2 linked regions of the Homo sapiens genome follow. The protein of the gene in region 2 interacts with the protein of the main gene of each other region in a biochemical or structural test. Each region holds a gene or a part of one and is shown on either strand. Other genes may lie near its edges. The genes, in order: APLF and PARP3.

Region 1 (2,859 bases), on a different chromosome or scaffold from region 2:
AAAAATTTAAAAAGACCAAAGTTTTATGCAACCTATGGCTTTTACTTTTTATTACCAATATACAAAGTACATAAAAAATATCCATTTTTACTCTACCTTCTCTGTCTTCCTATTTCCAGATGCTTTAAGTAGGAAAGAAAAGGCAAGGCAACAAAAAATTCCATCTATTATACTGAAGGCTGACGTTTCAATGTCTCATTTGTAAAGAGTCAGTAGTAAAAGTCATTAACTATCAAAAGAAGGAAAATAACTGTCACTTAAGTACCTCCTTAGTTCATAAATGTTTTCCCACAAAGAAAAAGTAAATGTAAGGCAGATATGACTACAGAAGTTAGTTACTATTTTCTTTTCATAAACCTTTTTGCTTCTTTCAAAAGCTCTTCCACATCTTCCTTCTCTTCATCTTCCTTTCCTGGTTCCCAGTCAGAATCTTCATCTGTTGGCTCATAGTCTTCTTCCTCATCATCTAGAAAGCTGTCGTTCAGGTCATACTCATTGGGTTGCCCAACATTATCATTATCTTCATCTAAAACATTTCTCACTGCAAAACAGAAGATTGGTACACAACACATCAATCACCACTCAACCTGGGATGACAGACATCTACCTATAAAATGTCTTTCTGCATCCAGAGGATTAATTTTATTAATGCATAGCTTACCACTACAAATTTCTGGAAACGGCACTAAAATGATGCTTTGTTATTTATTATTCTAACTTTTCCTACCATGAGGCTCCTGAAACTAAAATGACCCATGAGATTAATAATAATGGTTCCTTAATCTCATAATCATATTCACAACATCCCATCTTCCCATGTGGTAGAATGTATTTTTGTCCCAATTATTCACTGCCCCTTCCTGTGATATGATTATACTTCCTCACTTCTCAGTGATTGCTCAAAGAAATGTGAGTGGAAATAGTGTGTGTCACTTCCAAAAGGATGCTTTAAGACTCTTTCTCTGGTTCTGCTATTGCCATTTCCCCTCTGCCACAAGAACAGCATGTCCCAGATAGAGGCTGATCCCTCAGCCTGGATTCCAAGATGAGAATACACATGGCACAGGGCCACAGCCAATTCACAGCTGCAATAAGGAGAAATACACTTAAATAAGTGTATTTATTGTTATAAGGCACTGAAATTTAGAAATGTTTGTTATCACAGCAAACCTAGCAAAAGCTTGCTGACACATCAGGGCGTGAGCTTAGATACTTTGGAAAGTTTAGTTTTATAGGTCTAAGATATTCTTACAGTTCATGTTTCAGTAAGACTAGGAATGCCATAATAATAGACATTAGAATTTACAGATTTCTAAGTAATATTATAATACTAGAATTCTTCTGTCTCCAAATTCATTTCTTCCCCGATCTTACTCTTTCCACAGCGAGCTACAGAGTTGCTTTAAAATAAAGCAGTGAAAGACTCTAGGACAGTGTGGAACATTTAAGAAACAATTAGGAAGATTTCATCTAGAAATCTGAATGGCAGAGGACAGTCCCTAATGAACAGCAAATGTATAGGTTAAAAACATTAATGTCTGTACTTTAGTATACACTTTGGTTAACATCTTTCTAAAATGTTCACATGCAACATATAGTTATAATTTTAAAAATAAAGTCAATGAATTGGGAAAAATGAGAAAAATGACAAAGGAAGTAATGTATCTGTCCTTTTAACCCTTATAGCCCAATATATTTATATTTTTCTTAATATCAGTACGCATTCCAGAAAGGATTTGAGACAGCTTATAATAATAAAATGCTAATAAAGGTAGAAACCAAAAACATAAAAAGCAGAATACACATATGATAACCTCAATTTTTAACACAATTATTAAAAATAGAGCATCAAATTTATCCCCAAGATTCTTGGTAGCCAAGGCTAAAAAGGCAATATAATAACTTGCCCAATTATCATTATAGTAGGAAGCTCACCAGTTCCTTAAGGAAAATCTTGCATTACATATATCTGTATATACAGCTCCTGTAAACATCTTGAGGGCATGTTTTATGTCTAATCTCAGTTACCCATATTTTTAAAATAATAAAATGCATTTTTTAAAAATTGGAAGGCAGTTTGCAGTCGGGAAAGGGAATGAGAAGGAAAGAACATCAATATCTCTATTTTTGTCTATTTTCCTCTTGGAAATACCTTATACACATAACTTTTTTTTCTAAGATGTGAATGCACATTATCACATAACATGTCCTAATGATATCTCAATAAACAGTTTCCTTTCAGATTCAGAAATCACTTACCAGCTTTACAAGAAAAACAGATATAAAGGTGAAACAACTCCAGGTTCTCTGCTCACTTCATTGGCTGCTCCTTCTCAGTTTTCTTTGCTGGATTTTCCTCATCATCCTAATCTCTAAATTTTAGAGCTGGAACCTCTTCTCTAACTCACTCCTTAGATGATTCCATCCAGTCTTATGTCCTAAATTCCCAAATTCACATCTTAAGCCCTGACCTACTGCCCTGAATTCCAGACTCATTTATCTGGATACTTAAGCATTATCTGTACTTGGATGACTTACAGGCACCTGGAATATAACATTTCCAGAACATAACTCTTTAGTTGCTTTACCCAGATCTGGTCATTCTATTTATCAGTCTTGAATATATGACTTCTCTAATCATCCAACCATCTAGTTGTTTTAGCAAGAAATCTTGTAGTCATCCTTTAATATCCCTCACCGAGAACCCAACATCTAATACCTCAAGAGATCCTGTTAGCTTTACCTGCAAAGTAAATCCACCACTTCTGATCACATCCACTCTAATGCCCTGGCCCCAATACTATCATTTTCTTCCTGAATACAATATCCTCCTAACTGGCTCTCTTGCTTCCATTCTAG
Region 2 (4,325 bases):
GAGATGAAGGGCAGGTGGCCAAGAAGGCCCAGAAGGATGGACTGCCTGGGCAGGCTGACAGACGGGTGGGGAAGGCTGGGCAGACAGATAGGGTGGGGAGGGACAGGTGGGACACACAGGTGGGGTGGCTACAATACCAGTCATGTGAGAGAGGAGAGGGGAGGCCAGAGGTCAAGTGGGAAGACAAACTGCCAGGGCCCATCATCCTAGGTGCTGGCGGACATCGAGCTGGCCCAGGCCCTGCAGGCAGTCTCTGAGCAGGAGAAGACGGTGGAGGAGGTGCCACACCCCCTGGACCGAGACTACCAGCTTCTCAAGTGCCAGCTGCAGCTGCTAGACTCTGGAGCACCTGAGTACAAGGTGAGTTGGGCCCCACAGAGGGGCCAGGCTATCAGTGGGCACTGTCCCTCTGCCCACCTGCCCTCGAGGTGCCCAGAGGAATACTCGCCCTCAGCCTTCTCTTCCTGTGTCTCCAGGGCCTGAGGAGGGCTTGGGACTGGGGGAAGAAAAATGGGGGATTAGCTCCTGAGCCTCCCACCCTGGCAACCAGCTTCTGCTCTCCCCACAGGTGATACAGACCTACTTAGAACAGACTGGCAGCAACCACAGGTGCCCTACACTTCAACACATCTGGAAAGTAAACCAAGAAGGGGAGGTGAGGGAGGTTCCCCCACCTCTCCCCCATCACCACTGTGCCTTAGGAAGATGTCCTTGGCTAATCGGTCCCTTAGCAAATCGTTTAGCAGCTCTGGTCAGTTTCTGCCGGCCATGAGTGCGCGTGAGTAAGCAGAGGGACACTAGGCCTTGGTCACAAGCAGCAGGGCAAGGCGACTGAGTGCTCGGGTGGCATCACTCCCATTTCTCACTTCCTCTCCACTCAGGAAGACAGATTCCAGGCCCACTCCAAACTGGGTAATCGGAAGCTGCTGTGGCATGGCACCAACATGGCCGTGGTGGCCGCCATCCTCACTAGTGGGCTCCGCATCATGCCACATTCTGGTGGGCGTGTTGGCAAGGGCATCTACTTTGCCTCAGAGAACAGCAAGTCAGCTGGATATGGTGAGGTGCCCCTCTGGGCCAAGCCCTGGGAGGGTTGGCACTAAGATGGATTGGGCCCAGTCCTTGGCCACTGGAAATTCATGGTGAATCCAAGAGAGGAATCCTTTAATGGTTAATGACTACAGTGCTCAGTGGGCTGTCCTGGGCTTTGGTGGCGGGGGGTCTTAGAGAAAGTGTCTGATGGTCAGGGATGGCTTCCTGGGGGAGGCAATACAGATAGGATGGGTGCACCAACCAGACCTGGGAGGGGGTAAAAGGGGAGCCTTTGAGCCAGGTGTGGTGGCATACACCTGTAGTTCCATCTACTCTGGAGGCTGAGGCAGGAGGAACGCTTGAGCCCACAAGTTTAAGGCTGCCATGAGCTATGATCACACTCCAGCCTGTGTGACAGAGCCAGACTCCATCTGAAAAAATAAAAATAAAAAAGAGGAGACGTCAAGGCAAGGGGATAGGCAGAGAGGCTGGGAGGATGTGAGGATGTGGCAGGTCAGGGCTTCCAAACACTTCCTGATACTGGAGCTCAGAGCAATGCCTAGCCGGGGGCAGGGTGGGCTAGGGGCCCAGAACGATCGAGGAGGCTTTATCCAGAGAGTGATGGTTAGCCCAGCTGGACTTGTCTGTAGCAGGATCCCAGTGGCTACAGCTGTGGAGAGGGGGGCAGCAGCCAGAGGCTGCAGAGAGGCCATCCTCTTATCCAGGCTGGATGTGATGGGTGCCTGGCCCAAGGGCTGGGAAGTGCAGGGGAGGGAGCCCATGAGAGGGGCATGTAGGAGATGGGATGGGGAGCGTGTGGGAAAGGGTCAAGGCTGTCTCCAGTGACTTCTGAGTTTCTGGCCAGGAGTGTCCTCACCAAAATGACCCCCCCAGACCAGCTCCTCCACCCAGGCTGTCCCCATCATTGGAGGCCACCACCCAGCTGGCCAAGAGAGCAAGGACCAAGGATTCATCCCAGAACAGATGGGGCTGAAGTTCTAGGATGCCTGAGGTCACCAAGAGCAAGGGGTCCACCAGGAGGGCAGAGGGGCTTAGGAAAGAGTGGCGGGGTGGAGGGCTTAGGAGAGCCAGCGCGAGGAAGTCCCAGGTAGGGGCTGATGATGTCAGGAGCAAAGTCAGCAGAGCAGGCCAGGGAGAAAAGCCCCTGCCACGGGTTTGGTCACTGGGAGGCCATTGCTGACCTTGGTGAGGACAGCAGAGGGTACAGATGCCTGGCCATAGGGAGCACAGTGAGGTGGGAGGGAGCAGGCCGGGACAAGGAGGGAGTGACGGTTGGGGGAGAGTGAGCCTTTTCTTGCTGGAGCAGCAAAGCCAGAAGGAATAACATCGCAGCAGAGAGGGGCCCCACAGGTCAGCAGGAGGCAGGCTGAGCTGCCCACCGGTGCCTCCCTGTGTCTTGCAGTTATTGGCATGAAGTGTGGGGCCCACCATGTCGGCTACATGTTCCTGGGTGAGGTGGCCCTGGGCAGAGAGCACCATATCAACACGGACAACCCCAGCTTGAAGAGCCCACCTCCTGGCTTCGACAGTGTCATTGCCCGAGGCCACACCGAGCCTGGTGAGTCCTCAGAAGCTGTACAGCCCAAGGAGAGAGGTGGGGCCGAGATAGGGGCTGGGACATTTTCAGGGAGGGGGCTGTGAAGAGGGACAAAAAGAAGCTTCCCTGTCGTCACTCAGTTTGTCATTTGACAAACATCCACTGGTTCAACACATCATTCCTGGGCATCCCGGAGGGCTTCAAAAAGAGGAGTTGTTGACTGAGCATTGAAGGATTAGTACAAGTTTCCCAGAGAGAAGTCGGGGAGGACACCCCAGGCAGAAGCCCCAGCCCCTGCAGTGGTTTGGAGGTGGGCAAGGTGGAAATGAGCAGGCGTGCCCTGTGACAGACATGGAGAGCATAGGGGGCAGGACTTACTCGTAAGGCCTGGGACCAGTGACCCCTGGGCCACCCTGGCCCTTGCTGTGCCCTGCAGATCCGACCCAGGACACTGAGTTGGAGCTGGATGGCCAGCAAGTGGTGGTGCCCCAGGGCCAGCCTGTGCCCTGCCCAGAGTTCAGCAGCTCCACATTCTCCCAGAGCGAGTACCTCATCTACCAGGAGAGCCAGTGTCGCCTGCGCTACCTGCTGGAGGTCCACCTCTGAGTGCCCGCCCTGTCCCCCGGGGTCCTGCAAGGCTGGACTGTGATCTTCAATCATCCTGCCCATCTCTGGTACCCCTATATCACTCCTTTTTTTCAAGAATACAATACGTTGTTGTTAACTATAGTCACCATGCTGTACAAGATCCCTGAACTTATGCCTCCTAACTGAAATTTTGTATTCTTTGACACATCTGCCCAGTCCCTCTCCTCCCAGCCCATGGTAACCAGCATTTGACTCTTTACTTGTATAAGGGCAGCTTTTATAGGTTCCACATGTAAGTGAGATCATGCAGTGTTTGTCTTTCTGTGCCTGGCTTATTTCACTCAGCATAATGTGCACCGGGTTCACCCATGTTTTCATAAATGACAAGATTTCCTCCTTTTTTAAGGCTGAATGGTACTCTGTTATGTATATGCACCACATTTCCTCTATCCGTTCATCTATCAGTGGACACCAAGCTGCTTCCATATCTTGGCTATTGTGAACAGTGCTGCAGTGAACTGGGAAAGCAGACGTCTCTTGAACATACTGATTTCATTTCCCTTTGATGTATACCCAGTAGTGGGGTTTCTGGATCCATATCACCCCTTCTTGCCAGGCTCCCCTGTGTCCCAGACATCGATCCCCCTTCCCTCCAATCCCTGTTAGCCTTGATGTGTCTGTGGCCCCAGAGTCTTGCCTCCTAAAGTGATGGGTGTGGTACGGGCGTATTACAGGGACACAGATGCAGCAGCTTACTCAAGGGGCACAGCTGAGAGTGGCTTGGATCCCACATCCACCCAGGCCGTCCATCCTGGCCTGGACTGCATGTTGGAGCCATGTGGTCACCAAGGTAGGCTAAACTGCAGGCATGTGCAAGCAGCTTTACTAAACATGGTATTCTCTTGCCCCAGCCTCTGCCTGTCTGTGCCACAACTGTGCTGGGCCTGGGCCTCCAGCCACACTCCAGGGAGCGAGCGCTCACATGGGTTGATGTGGATCATGCACATACTCCTTGCCCCTCCTGGTCCATCACTGCAACAACCTGCTTCCTCTAATTGAGCCTTCAAGGGGGACCCCCACTGTCTACTCAGAACTATTTGTCATCTGGGGACCCACCTGGTGATTCTGTCCTTTATCCCAGACATTG

The links.
Region 1: the proteins of PARP3 (region 2) and APLF form a complex in vitro, tested with the Homo sapiens proteins (one study listed by BioGRID).

What each region holds. Positions count from the first base shown.
Region 1 is NC_000002.12:68,575,502-68,578,360, reverse strand, and holds part of APLF (aprataxin and PNK-like factor), read right to left. Parts: intron 542-2,859; coding exon 339-541; 3' UTR 1-338. UniProt on the Homo sapiens protein: Histone chaperone involved in single-strand and double-strand DNA break repair.
Region 2 is NC_000003.12:51,945,285-51,949,609, forward strand, and holds the end of PARP3 (protein mono-ADP-ribosyltransferase PARP3), read left to right. Parts: intron 1-210; coding exon 211-360; intron 361-568; coding exon 569-655; intron 656-881; coding exon 882-1,059; intron 1,060-2,455; coding exon 2,456-2,611; intron 2,612-3,026; coding exon 3,027-3,196; 3' UTR 3,197-3,583; downstream 3,584-4,325. UniProt on the Homo sapiens protein: Mono-ADP-ribosyltransferase that mediates mono-ADP-ribosylation of target proteins and plays a key role in the response to DNA damage. Mediates mono-ADP-ribosylation of glutamate, aspartate or lysine residues on target proteins.